Linked DNA regions of Homo sapiens: region 2 is linked to region 1. The links come from fine-mapping of genetic effects on gene expression. A gene starts in region 1. The other region holds a variant in brackets. All regions are shown on one strand. Distances are between the middles of the regions.

Evidence for each region. PIP is the estimated chance that this variant, and not a neighbour inherited with it, causes the effect.
Region 2: its variant is fine-mapped to the expression of SCGB2B2 in subcutaneous fat (FUSION, PIP 0.95).

What each region holds. Positions count from the first base shown.
Region 1 is chr19:34,672,768-34,681,498 of GRCh38, forward strand. It overlaps SCGB2B2 (secretoglobin family 2B member 2), which reads right to left and starts at 4,392. Exons shown (of 4, transcript NM_001025591.4): 1 at 2,863-4,392. ZNF302 (zinc finger protein 302) reads left to right here and starts at 4,911. Exons shown (of 5, transcript NM_001289187.2): 1 at 4,911-5,336; 2 at 5,970-6,046. The coding sequence starts at 6,038. It also overlaps the pseudogene ZNF807P and the pseudogene SCGB1B2P. RefSeq lists enhancers at 3,883-4,780, 4,440-4,539, 4,590-4,649, 4,781-5,677, 6,535-7,036 and a silencer at 5,100-5,159.
Region 2 is chr19:33,856,521-33,865,251 of GRCh38, forward strand. No RefSeq gene overlaps it. Among named protein-coding and RNA genes, the nearest start is that of SUNO1, 44 kb to the right of the region's middle. The variant G/A (reference allele first, on the strand shown) is at 5,346.

The DNA of each region.
Region 1 (8,731 bases):
AAACCTGAAACTTTGTCTCCCTTCATACACGACACCTTCTTCCATAACCTCACATGGCAAAAGGAGCAAACAAGCTTGGGCCTCTTTTATAAGGACATCAATCCATTCATAAGAACTCCAGCCTCATAACTTAACATTTCCTCAAAGGCCTCACCTCTTAATATTGTCACACTGGGGATTCGGTTTCAGCATATGAATTCTGTGGCGGGGGCGGGGGACAGACATTCACATCATAGCACACCCTGAATCTTAAACAGCTTCTGCATCAGAGTAAACTGGCTTTTCTTCTCCAAAGTTCATATTCTAAAATGTGCCCTTGACCAGATAAATCCCAACAGCAAAAATTACTGATTGTAAACACTGCATTATTTTAAATAGGAAAGGGACAGAAGGCAGCTAAGAGCTAGTGGAAGGGAGTGGGTTGAGTATTGCATGTAATGTGTTTTAGTTTCTCCTTATTGCTCTCTCTCTCTGCTTCATTTTCTTTCTCAAGTGTCTGGCATATTTGTTTAAATCAGACTTGCTTATGCCTATGATTCTCTCTACCTCACACCCCTGATTTCTGTTCCTCAGTCTCTATTCCAGTGCCTCTAACCTTTCTGCTAACAATGCAAGTCAGGGTGTCACTGGAAAAGGGGTCTCGATCCAGACCCCAAGAGGGTTCTTGGATCTTGTTCAGGAAGGAATTTAAGATGTGTCGCAGAGTGCAGTGAAAGATGCAAGTTTATTAGAAGCTACACCATTAGTGAGCAGGAGGCCCTCAGAAAACAAGAGGAGGAATGCACTGGCTTTAAGTTTTTCTTATATAGGGGTCTTATCTATGAAAAAACTAAGCTAAGCTGGGTCTATGTGTGGGTGAGCAGGCAGAATAAAAAAAATTATTACAGTATTCATTTAAACTAACCTGGACATTCCAGTGTGTAAGTACATCAAAACATAGCTATTATCTTCAAAGCATATATTGTTACGGGTATTGGGACATCTGGACTCTGCACTGTTGTAGGAGTGTCCCTGTAGGTATCTTTAGGCTGTTTCCTCAACTATAAACACCCCATGACTATGGGCCATGACCGACAAGGAATGTGCTTTGCTAGTCTCAAAATGGAACTATACTTAAAATGGCATCCTCTGGCTCTCTTATACTCCTGCTTCCCTAACGATGGGGCATTCACAAGTTAGGGGTTTAACTTCACAGGAATGCTTTTTATGAGATGGCCAGACATAGCTATTGAAACAAAAGGACTAGCCCTCCATTTAAAGTTCTTCTCACCTATGCCCTGAGTCACATCTAGTCCTTTAATGTTGGCCCTCTCTCCACTCATGAACTTAACTCATATTCCAAATATCTGAGGACTCATAATGGGAAACCACCATAATTCTTCCAGTGAGATCATGAGGAAAAGCAGAAACAATGAAAAATCCCTATGTAAGCTTTTCTGGATGGACTGAGCAGGGACTTTATGTCTTAAGTGTGGTTTAAAGTGGTTCCAAAGTGGCAGGGATCCTGGTCTTGTCTGAAAGGAAATTATATAATCTCTAGAAGAGAAAGGCACTTTCATCTAAGGATATGGGAAAGCTACATGAAATCTCTTTTCAAGGACAAAGATAACCAACAAAAAAGGAAGCAAAGCAAACTGATTGAAGAATTTGGAAATAAACATCCAAACGGGCCCACAAAATCTTCAGTTATTGTTATTATCAGATACATATTATGAAGCAACTATACCTACCATGTTAAAAAAGTTTGGAAAATTGAAATTAAAATGTCCTGGAGAGATAATTATGAATGGGCAATAGATCGGAATAAATTATCCAGAATGCAACACAGAGATTGAAGGATGAAAATCACAGAGAATTTAAGACACCTGGAGGATAGAGGGGTAACACCTGCCTCATAACGAATTGGGGTTCTCAAAGCAGAGAAACAATGGTGAAGAGGCAATATATGGGAGAGGAAGAGTTTGCTGATTACCAGAGATGACACATCACAGATTCAAGTTGTTCAGCAAATCCCAAGCAGGAAAGAATTTAAGAATTTCATAACCAGAAACATTATGCCAAACTCCAGAAAACACATTCAGTTACTATTTCAGTTGAAAGCCCAGGATTCTAAGTGGGAAACGATCTTAATAACCTAGTCACTGCACTATCTCACTATCTCCTTAAACCTCATTTTTTCCTATGTCTCTTGCATTTTAATATTAAAAAGGTCATCATTCCAAAAGAACTTGACCAAAAGACCTGCAATTCTCAGAGAAGGGAATACTAAGACCAATAGACATTCAAAAAGATTCTCAATCTCATTAACAATTAAAAAATGCAACTTTAAGCCACAGTGAGTTACTATTTCACACCTAGTAGATTATTAAACTTTTAAAGTTTCACAAAGAGAGTGTTGGCAGTAAGAGTTGGCAAGCAAAATAACCATAAACTCTGGTAGGAGTGAAAATTGGTACAACTTTGGAAAACAATTCATGATTGTATAGTAAAATCATAGATGGAAACATGCTTTGCACAATCCAGTCTTTCCTTATTACATACTCTAAGCCTTGAGAGGAAGCCAGCTGATGCCAGTGTTTTTTAAAACTGTGGCTGCTATAGGAATTCACAACCACACCCACAGGATACACCAAGGTAGAACTGTCAGAGGTGTTTAAACCAGAGCGACTCCATCTTGAATAGGGCCTGGGTAAAATGAGGCTGAGACCTACTTCCCAGACACTTAAGGCATTCTAAGTCACAGGATAACATTGGAAGTCGGCACAAGCTACAGGTCAGGTCATAAAGGCCTTGCTGGTTAAACAAATTGCAGTAAAGAAGCCAGCCAAAACCCACCAAAATCAAGATGGCGAGGAGACTGACCTTTGGTGTCCTCACTGCTGCTTGTTATGTGTCCGGAATTGGTTCCTTCTGGTGGGTTCCTGGTCTGGCTGGCTTCAGGAGTGAAGCTGCAGACCCTCGCGGTGTGTGTTACAGCTCATAAAGGCGGTGCGTCTGGAGTCGTGCTGGAGTTGTTTGTTCCTCCCGGTGGGTTCATGATTTCGCTGGCTTCAGGAGTGAAGCTGCAGACCTTCACAGTGAGTGTTACAGCTCCTAAAGACGGCGTGTCTGGAGTTGTTCGTTCCTCCCAGTGGGTTTGTGGTCTCGCTGGCTTCAAGAGTGAAGCTGCAGACCTTCAGGGTGAGTGTTGCAGCTCATAAAGGTAGTGCAGACCCAAAGAGCAAAAGAACAAACATCCCACACCTGGGAAGTAGACCCCAGCGCGGTTGCCGCTGGTTGTTCGGGTGGCCCGTTTTTATTCCCTTATTTGGCCCCGCCCACATCCTGCTGATTTGTCCATTTTACAGAGCGCTGATTGGTCTATTTTACAGAGTGCTGTTTGGTCCGTTTTTACAGAGTGCTGACTGGTGCATTTACAAACCTTTAGCTAGACACAGAGCACTGATTGGTGTATTTACAATCCTTCAGCTATACAGAAAAGTTCTCCAAGGCCCCACCTGATCCAGAAGCCCAGCTGGCTTCACCTCTCGGTTATATGCTAATTATATGCATTAGCACGCTAAGAGAAACGCTCATCAGTGCCATGGCAATTTACAAATGCCATGGTAAGGTTCAGAAGTTACCCTGTATGGTTCAAAAAGCTGGGAAGCCCTCAGCTCCGAGAAATTGAAATTGCCCACCTCTTTCCTGGAAAACTCATGAATAATCCACCCTTGTTTAGCACATCATCAAGCAATAAATACAAGTATCCCTAGTCCAGCAGCCCAAGCTGCTGCTCTAACAATGGAGTACCCATTGTTTCTTTACTTTCTTAATACACTTGCTTTGGCTTTGCACTGTGCTCTCCCATGGATTTTTTCTTGCGTGAGCTCTAAGAACTCTCTCTTGGGGTCGGATCCGGACCCCTTTCTGGTAACAGAAGCACTGCTTCACGAAGATCATGCAGGTCAGTACTTAATAAGTACAAAAAAGTCTATAGCGACACTATTTATAATTTTAAAAATGATTGAAGTCAATTAACATTTAAGTGTTAAAAAGAAAGTAAACAACCCAAATATACACAAACAGTAGACTGCTCTGGCTTGCATACAGAGAGGTCCATTGCCCTTTTGGGTGGGCCTAAGAAGCACTTCTGGGGAGAGGGGGCGTCAGGCTGTGATGGCTGCGGGAGGAGTGACTCCTCCCAGGATGAGGGTCTCCATCCTCCCAGTGCTCACTCAAGTTCAGTATTTCCAAGTCCTTCCAGGGGCGTAACGCACGTCAGAACGGCCATTAGTGTCACAGATACGTGTCCCCTTGCATTTCCAGGAAATGCCCTTGGTTGGCGAACTACAGTCGTGACAGTCGGGCCACAGGGCGTTTTGTGAGTTATCGTCTTGGGCAAATGAGTGCCAAAAAAAAAAAAAAAAAAAGACCTGAAGGTGAACAGCATAGCGGCAGGGTTTGGGATGAGAGGAGCCCCTTTGCTAGCAACGGCGAGCACTTGCGCGGTACCAGCAAGGGCTGCCCATGTCTCGGAGGGAAACGTTTGTGTGAGCGCAGGAATGACCCGGAAGACCTTGGCACGGCTGCAGTTTTCTGGGAAATGTAATTTCTTGGTCCGGGCGCCATGGCCCTTATAAGTAGAGGGTGTCCCTTGGTTTCGAGTTGTATCGTTCACCAGAGGACGACTGTGTGCCCCAGGACAATTTGCGCATGGTCCTAGCTGGCCGGCTCTAGGTCGACGGCCCCAGGCGGTTAAGCTACTTACAAAGCCGTGACCGGTTTGCCCGCGGCGCACCAGGTCCGCGCAGCCGCAGAGACCCTTGGGAAGTGTGGTCTTCGGGTGCCGGCGGTTCGCGGCTTCCGGGACATTTGTACCGCAGGGGGAGGATTCTGGGAAATGTGGTTCGCCGTGGGCGGTGCACTGGGTCAGTCCCGCGATAGCTTCAGGCCTGGCGGCGGCTTCCAAGCTAAGGAACGGTTTGGGGCAGTGTCGTTCCCGGAGGTCGGCCGCCGTTACCCGCTCACCAGCTACGCGGCGCGTCAGGTCCGCGGAGGCGCGGGCTCGGGGCGCCTGCGGGACGGTGAGGCCCTGCTGAGGACTCCGGCAAGTGTGGGTCGCGGCGACGGCGGGGCTAAGGCCCTGGGTCCGCGCGCGGTTTGACCACGGCCGGGGCCTTGGGCATTTCCTGGCCTTCCTGTTGAGCCGTGTAAACGCGGGGTGATGACGGCGCCGACCTCTTGGCACTGTTGTGAGAGCGAAGTGGGCGCGAGAGCAGACGCCAGCTACAGTTTTTTTTGGGTTATGTCGTCATGAAGCCGGCGCTTTCAGTTGTGCAACCTTGAACAAATGGGTTCAGTATCTCGGAATTTCAGTTTTGTCTTCATTTTAAAAAATAAATCTGGTTTAGAACTCGACCTCAAGCGATCCGCCCGCCTCCGCCTTCCGAAGTGCTGGGATTAAAGGCGTAAGCCACCGCACCAGCCTAACGAACATGGCGAAACGCCGTCTCTACTAAAAATACAAAAAAAAATTAGCTGGGCGTGGTGGCACGTGTCTATAATCCCAGCTATTCGAGAGGTTGAGGTAGGAGAATCGCTTCAACCCGGGAGGCAGAGGTTGCAGTGAGTCGAGGTCGCTCCATTGCACTCCAGCCTGGAGACAGAACGAGACTCCGTCTCAAAAAAAAAAAAAAAAAAATCTGGAATAATATGAATGCACACCTTGCAAAGTGGTGAAGACTGAACGAGCTGATAAAGTTGTTACCGTTGTTTTATGAGTCTTTTGTATACAGAATAATTGATTTTCCCCGCAGGTGGCACCTGGTAAATAGCCCTTGCGGAGAAACACCCTGTTCCTTCCCAGGGAGAGATTGACGCTCCGGCGAGTGATTACCAGTGTGCTTTTCCATTAAGGTGTGTGACAGGTGCCGCAAGATAAGCCCGATTTTTCATGACTGCTTTTTCCTGCCTTTCTGTGCCCTCAGGACACTGCCCATCTCTAAGATAAGAACCTGGAAAGGGGACTCTGTTGGCCATTGGAAATTGCAGAATAATGTCTCAGGTAAGTCGGTGTGTCCCCAAATCTTCCTGAAACACTTTATTAGGCCTCTGTGTGTTTGCTTTGCTTCTCCTGCCTGTTCCCACCTAATCAAGTCCATTTAAGGGACTAGATCTATGGTTCCTTTCACTATAGGAAGAATGGAGCCCACAGGAGAGCTCCAAGGTATTGTCCTCATCACCCAGTGTTCCTCTTTTCTACAGTTTTCTGCTAGAAGACTTTCTAGATTGCCAACATTTTAAAACTGTAATTCACAATGCAACTTTGGAATGTAAGGTTATTCGGTTTATGGTTGTCAAAACTGTACCATGTGGTCTCAAGTGAAGAGATGTTTGGAGTCATCCTTGATTCTTCCTTTTGACTTATAACTCATATTCAGGTCCTCTAGTTTGGATCTAAACGATACACCGTATACAGCATCTGACCATTAGTTAGCCCATCACCACCACCACCACTACCACCCCAGTCCGAGCCACCTGGATTATTGCGGTAGCCTCCTAGCTGGATTCCCAGCATCTGCCCTTAACCCTCATCAGTCTGTTCTCAGTACAGCTGTGACCATGGTCCTATTGTTATATAAATTCCTGTCATTCCGCAACCTAAAATTTTTCAGTGGTTCTAACTGAGTCACTTCTGCAATGACCTATTTGTACAATTAGGCCATTACCTCCCTGATCCCACCTTCCTTCTCTGCCTCCTCATTCCTGTGCGCTCCAGCCTCTGTCACCAGTTGCTGTGCCATCCACGTGGAATATTCTTCCCCCACATACGCACAAGCTTGCATCCTTATCTCCTTCTGTGTTTGTTCCGTGGTTACTTTCTCAGAACAGCTTCCCTGAAAGCCTATTTGCAATTGCAGTCACCTTCCCTAGCGCTTCCACTCCTCCATCACTGCTTTGTTGTTTTCCACAGTGTGTGTCACTCACTAGCTGATGTACTGTATGTTCAGTATATGCACGTGCTCATTGTCTGTTCCTGGTGGGAGGAATGCTTTTTCTTCTTTGTTGACTGTTATAGCGTCAGTACCCAGAGTGTTACCTGGCACCAAATGGATGCTTAGTAAGTAATTGTGGAGTGAATAAGATGAGTAATGAAGAACTGGTGGGGCAGAATCATGGCATGGAAGGTGAAGCTTGCACAGGAGGGGATGTAAGTAGCAGATGTACATCTTGGGTGAAGTCTGTTTTCATGGAATAATTAAGATAATTAGAATTGAAAAACTGGTGTGGTAGTGCATGCCTGTTGTCCCAGTTACTCGGGAGGCTGATGAGGTAGGAAGATTTCTTGAGCCCTCTGGTGTAAGCCTGTAGTGAGCTATGATTATGTCACTGCACTCCAGCTTGGTGACAGAGCAAGAACCTGCCTCTTGAAAGAAAAAACAAAGTAAAGGCTAAAGTGAACTAATGCCAAAACCATTCATTGGTTCATCTTCTAAACACTTATGAAGTACCTGTTAGGAAGAGTTGTACATGGATTTTGGTGTACACTGACACACAGGACTTCATGATCTAGTGCAGTATTGTCTAAGAGAACTTTCTGCAGTGGTGGAAGTGCTGTGCATGTGTACTGATCAGTACGGTAGCCAACAGCCCCATCTGACTATTGAGTACTTGAACTGTGGCTTAAGCAATGGAGAAAATAAATTTTAAATTTTATTTAATTATTTTATTTTTACATTTTAATTAATTTAAATGTTGTAGCCAAGTTGGCTAGTGGCTCCTGTATTGAAGATTGTGGCACTGGTAGAAAAGTAAGAAAGCATGGGAAATTTAAATAAGTGCTAGGATAGATATCCTATGTTCTTTTGGGAACTGAGATGAGTGAACATCTCAAGCTGCCCAGGCAACTGAAGGGGAAGAAAGAAGCATCCCTGGCTCTAAGTTGTAATGACTGGTTTGTCAAAGATATGAGAAATGTTATTTTTATTTGGGATATAGGCAATTAACACAGTGGCAACTCCAATTAACAGGTGAATTTAGAAGAAATTTTGTGTAGCAAATTGAACTGTCAAATCTTACTTGAGGATAAGTTATTGTTTATTTGGAAAATGTGTGTTGGATTGTATCTGCTTGCCTATATAAAAAGATGAGATTTCTTCCTGTCCTTTTCATCTCAATAGTGGATCGCTTGTGAAGTGCATCAAGGTCTGATTTAGCTTATTCAGTAATAAAACTGCTTTCTTTTTTTTTCTACATTTGTGGAGAGGATTTTCTGCCATTGGAAGGCGATTCGAATTTTAATTATTTTCTCCAAACCTGAGAAAAGTAAATTCTGCCTTTAAAACCAAAGATCCATGTCACTGGTGAACATGCATGCAAAATATCCAAATAAAGTAATACAATACTGAATGAACTCTCAGAGCTAAAAAATTACCACAGTAGAGCAGTCTGTTTTACAAATCACAGACAGTAATAACTCTGTATTAAATGGCTGTACTTTTTGCACATATTATAATTTGACTAGCCAATAAGCTATTATTGAATATTTAAACTTCTAAAGTTTTACTATTTTAAATAATACTGTGAAATGAGTACTATTGAGAAGAATTTCTAAGCACATCTGTGAGCATTTCCTTAGAATATTTTCTTTGAAATCTACTCTTATTTTTTTCCCCTTCCAGGTCCTATTTAAGGACTGTCTATGGCAGGAGTCCTCAACCTTTTTGACACCAGGGATCAGTTTCGTGGA
Region 2 (8,731 bases), 820 kb before region 1:
CCCCACAAAACCTATTGAAATAAAAAAATAAAAATAAAGTTGAACAGGAGAAAAAAAAAATACACTCATCACATGACCCAGAGATTCCACACTTAGATATTTACCCAAGAGAAAGAAAAACATATACCCATACCGAGACTTGTACACAAATGTTCATAGCAGCTTTACTCATAAAAACCAAAAACTGGAAACAATCCAAACGACAGATAAGTGAAAACACAAATTGTGGTGTATCCATACAACAGAACACTATTCAGCACAAAAGAGGATAAACTGCTGGTATGTGCAATGGCATGGCTGATTCTCAAAAGCATAAGTGATCTCTCAAAATGATGCCTCAGCCAGCAGAGGTGGCTCATGCCTGTAATCCCAGCACTTTGGGAGGCCGGGGTGGGCGGATCACTTGAGGCCAGGAGTTCGAGACCAGCCTGGCCAACTTGGCAAAAACCCCATCTCTACTAAAAAAACAAAAAACAAACAAAAAAAATGAGCCAGGCATGGTGGTGCATACCTGTAATCTTAGCTACTCGGGAGGCTGAGGCAGGAGAATTACTTGAACCCAGGAAGCAGAGGTTGCAGTGAGCTGAGATCACAATACTGCACTCCAGCCTGGGCAACAGAACAAGACTCCATCTCAAAAATCAAAAAAACAAAACAAAATGATGCCTCAAAAGTATGATGCTGGGTGCAGCAAACCACCGTGGCAAACCATGTAGGTAAACATGGTACAGGTTTACCATGTAACAAACCTGCACATGTACCCTAGAACTAAAAAAAAAAAAAAAAAAAGCAGCATGATGCCGGGCAAAAGAAGCCAGATACAAGAGTATGTGCTGTACTATTCTGTTGATATGAAATAGAAATAGTGACAAAAAGCAGATTGGTCACTGCCTAGAGCAGGGGCTAGGAAGGCAGGTTATCTACTAGGCAGGAGCAGGAAAGCAGCTATAGGTGTGGAAACGTTCTATGTCTTTTTTGGGTGGAGGGTGGTTACATGGTTGTATACATTTGTCAAAATGCATGGGTGCATTTTATTTTGTAAAAATTATGCCTCAATAAGTTGGAATTAAAGAAAAAAGAAAGAAAAAATATTTTTATGCCATTGGGGGTAGAGAAAGTTCTTTTTGAATAAGATATAAAAACTATAAACCACAAAAGACAAAGAGAATTCTACTACATTAAAATTTACAACTTCTGCATATCAGAAGACACCAACCTCAATATTAAAAAACAACCCACAGGCTGGGCACGGTGGCTCACACCTATAATCTCAGCACTTTGGGAGATCAAGGCAGGTGGATCACCTGAGGTCAGAAGTTCAAGACCACCCTGGCCAACATGGTGAAACCCCATCTCTACTAAAAATACAAAAATTAGCCAGGCGTGGTTGGTGGGCACCTGTAATCCCAGCTACTCCGGAGGCTGAGACAGGAGAATTGCTTGTACCTGGGAGGCGACAGAGCGAGGCTTTGTCTTAAAAAACAAAAACAACAACAACAACAAAAAAAACTCCGACAGACTGGGAGAGGATATTTACAACCCATGTAACAACAACAACAAAAGATTGGTATCCAGAATATTTTATAAACTATTATGAAGCAATCAGAAAAATACAATCTAATGAAAAATGGCTGGGATATCACTGGGCAAATCATAAGTGAAAAAATCAAATCATCCACAAGCATGTGAGAAGATGTCAACTCACTCTCAACCAGGAAAATAGAAATTAGAAATGGCAAAATGTGATCGTCAGATAACAGACTGTGGGCAGGGATGTGGGGAAATGGGATCCGTTTTGTGTTCCTAATGGTAGTGTATCTTCAGAGAACAAATTGATGAGGAATTTGGCAAGAGCTAGGGAATTTGAAGATGCACATCCCCACATCACCTGACATTTCTTCATTTAGCTATCTGCCCTGCAATGCTCAAGGTTATGTGCACCAGGTTAGGTGCTCAACATGTGTTGAGCACTGCCTTGTTTTTTTGCCTTTACTTTGTTTTTTGACACGGATCTCGTTCTGTCGCGCAGGGCTACAGTGCAGTGGCGTGATCACGGCTCACTGCAGTCTTGACCTCCTGGGCTCAGTGATCCTCCCACCTCAGCATCCTGAGTAGCTGGGACTACAGGCATGCTCCACCATGCCTGGATATTTTTTGTAGAGACGGGGTCTCATGGTGTTGCCCAGGCTTGCATTGTTAGCCCCGAAGTGGGAATATCCTAAATTTCTAATAATTGAGCAATAGGTAAAAAAAAAAAAAAAAAAAGTATAGCTATGCAATGGAATACTATCGAAGAATCAAAATGAATAAACTAGATCTAGATCTATATGTATGAACACGGTGAGATATATATATATATATATATATATATATATATATATATATATATATATATGAGAGAGAGCCGTATAGCAAGAGAGGGAATGCGCTACAGAAGGATATATACCGCCCAGAAAGAGAGGTGCTCAGCAGGACCCTAAGAAAGGGTTCCCACTGCAGCCCCATAAAAGGGGGCAGTGTTGGAGCAAGTGGACAGCTGAAAACTGCCTGCAAATAAGGAGTTTCCCAGACTCTGGGGTGTCTCTACAGAGACCCAATCCCCGGCTCTCTGACAGCGATGCAGGTCTTTTGAACGCCTGGGCTGCTGCTGCCCGCGCGCCTCCCCCGTGGCAATAAGCTATGAACAGGCGCTCGCAAGCGCTGCGATCCCACACCACCTGCGCGGTGCAGAATGCGAGATGAGCGAGCCCACAGGGCCTCCAGCTCTGTGCCGCATCACAGCCTCCCCTGCGTCTTTCTTCTCTGCTACCATCCCACTCACTTTGGCTCCACAGACTTGCTTTGAGGTTTGGCACTTCCACATTTTTAATATAAACTCAGATTCTGAAGACTCCAGCATCAAATCCTTATTTTAAAAAAAAAAAAAAAGACCCCCCAAAGAAACTGACTTCCTAACTTTCCACCTGCCCATTGTTTTCTAAAGAACAGGTGTTTGAGTAGCTTGTAGGTCGTAACCTTTTATCCCAAAAAAGAAATCTATTTTCTCCTTCCCATGCACTCTAACCTCAACAAACCCAAATCAGTTTGGAGATGGAGCCCTGCTTGATTTTATTTTATTTAGAGAGAGGGTCTCGCTCTATCACCCAGACTGGAGTGCAGTGGCACGATCACAGCTCACTGAAGCCTCCAACTCCTGGGCTCAAGTGATCCTCCCACCTTGGCCTCCCAAGAAGCTGGGACTACAGGTGTGCACCACCATGGCTAATTTCTTTATTTTTTGTAGAGAGGGGGTTTTGCTGTGTTGCCCAGGCTAGTCTCTAACACTCAGCCTCAAACGATCTTCCTGCCTTGCTTGGCCTCCCAAGGCCTTGGGATTGTAGGAACAGCCACCATGCCTGGCCATGACTTCTGATCTCCCTTCTGAGATTTGGTTGTAGGAAGGTGGGGGATGGATGGATGTGTCCGAGGTCTGCCTCTAACCACATTTCTTTCTTTTTCTTTTTTTCTTTTTAGATGCAGTCTTGCTCTGTTTGCCCAGGCTGGAGTGCAGTGGCGTGATCTTGGCTCACTGCAACCCCTCAAGCGATTCTCCTGCCTCAGCCTCCCAAGTAGCTGGGATTATAGGTGCCCGCCACCACACCCGGCTAATTTTTTTGTATTTTTAGTAGAGATGGGGTTTCACCATATTGGCCAGGCTGGTCTTGAACTCCCGAGCTCAAGTGATCTGCCCACCTTGGCCTCCCAAAGTGTTGGGATTACAGGCTTGAGCCACTGCACCCGGCCTCTTACCGTATTTCTATCTGAGCCTGCCTTTGCTTGTCTTCGGTGGGGGAATTGAGAATCCATTGGTATCTGAGCTGGAGAGGATCAACAAAGCTGTATGAAGCCCCCTTGGTACAGATCAGAGAAACCTGCTGAGAAAAGAGAACCACTTCCCTGCCTTCCCTTGGAAGCCCAAGTGTTTCCTGTGCCTTTCATATCCGCCCTCAAGGCTGGCCCATGTGGACTGCATCAATGTCTCCCTTGCCTCTGACTTTTAGTTGGATCTGGCTCCTGGGATTCTCTGGCCCAAGACGGGAATGAGAGACGATAGGGAGGAAGGCCCTTTATTCCCTCCAGGGCCACCCTCCTTGAAGGTCACAGCCCAGAGGGGCTATCACATGGCCTTTGGTTTTTTCCCCATCCCACCCACAACCAGATTTTTGTGACAGTATCCGGAGAGTGAAATAAACCTGCATTGCCATTTTCTCAGCAATTTCCGTCTCCCACTCCCTCTTCTCTACCAATGCACTCACAGCATCTATGTGCAGTGCCTTCCACATTCTAGACGCTGGAAGGATGCTGCCGGGAGAGGGTTGGATGTAGTCCCTGACTTCGAAGAGATGTTGGTGTGTCCAGAAGAGGGAGGTGCAGGCACAGAGCTGCCAGTGCCAACATGAGGGCAGAACTTCTGACCATCTGACCATCTAAAAGGCAGCCTCTCGGGCTTTCCTGTATCTCTTTACTAGATAATCTTTACTAACCTTTAATAGAGTAAAGATTAAATGACAAAGGTGGCCAGGAGCAATGGCTCACACCTGTAATCCTAGCACTTTGGGTGGCCAAGGTGGGCGGATCACTTGAGGTCAGGAGTTCGAGACCAGCCTGGTCAACATGGTGAAATTCCGTCTCTACTGAAAATACAGAAATTAGCCGGAAATCACTTGAACCATTGGGGGGGGGGGGTGCAGACATTGCAGTGACCTGAGATTGTGCCATTGCACTCCAGCCTAGGCAACAGGGCGAGACTCCATCTCAAAAAAAAAAAAAAAAAAAGGCCAGGCACAGTGGCTCACATCTGTAATCCCAGCACTTTGGGAGGCTGAGGCGGGTGGATCACCTGAGGTCAGGAGTTCGAGACAAGCCTGGCCAACATGCTGAAACCCCATCTCTACTAAAAATGCAAAAACTAGCTGGGTGTGGTGGTGCACCCCTGTAATCCCAGCTAGTGGGGAGGCTGGGATGGGAGAATTGCTTGAACCTGGGAGGCGGAGGCTGCAGTGAGCTGAGATCGTGCCACTGCACTCCAGCCTGGGCAACAGAGCAAGACCCTATCTCAAAACAAACAAAAAGATTAAACAAGAAAGATGATCGATAATAACTTGGCATTTATAAGTACCATCAGTCACTCAAGATTTTCCAAGCACTTTTCACAGGGGAGGCCTGTGCTAAGTACTCCAGCACTGAGGGCAGGTGTACAAGGCAGGGTACCACTCCTTTTCTGCCCTTCCTTGAAGAGTGCAGTCTTTTGGGGGAATCAGGTGAGTGAGTGGTCAACGTGGCTGAGGGATTTCTGGTGAGACAGC[G/A]GCCAGTGGGCCCTGGAGTGAGTGAGGAAGTTCTTGGAACAGCAGGGATTTCACTAATGCTCTCCTCCTACGTGGAAGGGGCTCATTGAGTCCAAGTCCCCAAAAATGCTTACAGAACAAAGTGGTTTAAAAAAATCTAAATCACAACTGCTGGACTCTTATGTCATCTAGTGACTAACCAGTTCCTGACCAGGTATTTGAACTGCTGGGAAGTTGCCATCTTGAATGGATGCCTGGCAGCAGCCATATCAGTTTTCCCAGGGGACCTTGCGAGCAGCTCCACACACAGGACCTGGGAGTGGGCCCGGGGGGATGGATTCAGGTCGCTTTGTAGGACAGCATGCCCAGCTCTTCCTTCCTACTAACAATAGCAAAACCCCTCATCACCCTCATCACAAGCCAATCTGCCAACAAGTGTTCATTCAATAGCTGCTGTCTCTGCCCCTGCTGTTACCCCAGCTGTGGTGGTCAGTGGGGAGGAGTGAGCTGTTTGCTGAGAAGAGGTGAGATGGCGAGTAATAGTAGTAATAATAATAACAATAATAATAAAGACAGTGGGCCAGGCGAGGTGGCTCACTCCTGTAATCCCAGCACTTTGGGAGGCCAAGGTGGGAGGATCACTTGAGCCCAGGAGTTCAATACCAGCCTAGGCAACAAAATGAGACCCTGTCTCTGAAAACAAATAAAAAGGTAACGTATCTTCTAAAATTATCTTTTCTAGACTTTGTGTAAGACTGAAAAAAATGAAGCCAAGCCCACAATGGCTCACACCTGTAACCCCAGCACATTGGGAGGCTGAGGCAGGAGGACTGCTTGAGCCCAGGAGTTCAAGACCAGCCTGGGCAACATAGCAAGACCCCCTCTCTCCAATAAATAAATAAATTAGCTGGGTGTGGTTGCATGCATCTATAGTCCCAGCTACTTGGGAGGCCGAGGCTGGAGGATCACTGGAGGCCAGGAGTTGGAGGCTGCAGTGAGCTCTGATTGCACCACTACACTCCAGCCTGGGCGACAGAGTGAGACCCTGTCTCTAAAAATTAAAAAAAGAAAAAAGAGAGAGAATGCACAACAAATGTTATCTGTGTCCTAGGCCAGCTGAGGGCTTCCCATGAATCTTCTCACTAAGTCCTTGCTGGAGCCCTTTGAAGGAGGCATCAGCATCCTCAATTACAGATGAGGAGACTAACAGGGAAACAGCATGTGACCTGTCCAGTGATTCAAAAGTGCCTTCTCCACCGTGGTGCCAGACTGACCTCCGAGAAGACACTGACCAGAAGGCATAGCAAGGTTGACAGCTGACGGGTGCAGCTGGAGGCCAGGCAGGCTGGAGCAGGGGCCTGGAGAGGGGATGTGGAGTGGCAGGGAGAGCCTCTGCTGAGGCCTTCCTGGGCTAGGCCAGGGGGTCAGGGCTGCAGGGGGAGGGTGGAGAGGGGGAAGAGGTGGGGGTGGAGAGAGCCCAGGAGGGGAGCCTGGCCTGCAGTGGTGCTTCAGGCAGAAGCGGCCCTCCCACCAGCCCCTTTCCAGTCACATAAAGCTGGGTTTGTTTCCATTTATCTGCTTGACTTTTCAGCCAAGATGCTGTTTGAAAAACATATTGCTCTAATTTAATCCACATGTGCACCCCCAGGACAGAGTCTAAAGAAAGCTTCCGTCACGGCCCCAAAGTCTCAGCCTCATGGAGGTGGTAGGGGTGGGCCTTGTGGGTGACCCCAACCCACCTTTAAGGGCCCACCCTAAAGCCAGGGCCCACCCTACTTCTGTCCTGGACAAGCGGGTGGGGGTGTTGGTGGGACAGGGGACTCCCAAGGTAGTGTCCATGGCCCGCTCCCTGCACCTGCCCACAGGGGAAGGATGCAAAGAGCAGGAGGCCAGTGGACACAGTGGGCATGGGCTTGGGGTAGGGTTGGTGCATGAGGGGGTTTGACTTTTTTTTTTTTTTTGCAATGGAGTCTCACTCAGTCTGTCGCCCAGGCTGAAGTGCAGTGGCATGATCTTGGCTCACTGCAACCTCCATCTCCCAGGTTCAAACAATTCTCCTGCCTCAGCCTCCCAAGTAGCCAGCACTACAGGTGTCCGCCACCATGCCTGGATAATTTTTTTTTTTTTTTGAGACAGAGTCTCGCTCTGTCCCCAGGTTGGAGGGCAGTGGCGCAATCTCGGCTCACTGCAACCTCCACCTTCTGGGTTCAAGTGATTCTCCTGCCTCAGCCTCCCGAGTGGCTGAGGTACAGGTGCATGCCATCATACCTGGCTAAATTTTTGTATTTTTAGTAGAGATAAGGTTTCACCATATTGGCCAGGCTGGTCTTGAACTCCTGATCTCAAGTGATCCACCCACCTCAGCCTCCCAGTGTTAGGATTACAGGTGTAAGCCACAGCGCCTGACCCAGCTACCTTTTTTTTTTTTTTTTTTTGGTATTTTTAGTGAAGACAGGGTATTGCCATGTTGGCCAGGCTGGTCTCAAACCCCTGACCTCAAGTGATCTGCCCACCATGGCCTCCCAGAGTGTTGGGATGACAGGTGTGAGCCACCACACCTGGTCAAGGGGGCTTTGACTTCTAATCAGTTCCTTTCCCTCCCTTCCTCAGATACAGACCCAAACTCTGGGGCACACAGTGGTGACATAAGGCAGTTTATCCAAGCATGTGGAGTTGGGGGAGATGCTGTCTACAGGGTGGAAGCCAGGATGAGCCAGGAGCAGGGCTCTGAGATGGGGCACAGGACCACCTACGATCTCGCCTGAGCGCCTGGCTGCATATGAGGTGAGTTTAGGAAGCTTGTCTCACAGCCACACCCCACTGGCAAGAAGCCAGCAGGGAGCAAAACCAGTATGTTCATTTCAGTATTCTCTCCCAAGTGTGTGCCTGTCACATATCTTATTTTGAATCAAATTATGTATATTATTTGGAGGGATTGATTGCTGAAAATGAGAAAAGCTAGAAGGACCTGTCTCACACAGGTTTATTCAGAACTGAGACCAGAGATACAGCACTGGAGCATAGAACTGAAATGTCTGACTTTGATTCAGGGCCTAGGACCCTTCTGGTGTCCTACGAGTCAGGATCCTGGTGCACTGGTCCATGCAGAAATGACACTTCTCTTTCCTTCTAGAGTCATTCCCTCCACTCCACAACTCATTGTCCGCTTGGACTAGGCTGGATTCCCAAGCAAAGAACAATGCAGGAGGATTGCTTGAGCCCAGGAATTCAGAACCAGCCTGAGCAACATAGTGAGATTCTGTATCTACAAAAAATTTTTAAAAATTAGCCAGGCATGGTGGTGCACACCTGTACTCCCAACTACTCAGGAGGCTGAGGCAGGAGGATCACTTGAGCCCAGGAGTTGAAGGCTGCAGTGAGCTATGATCACACCAGCCTGGGCAACA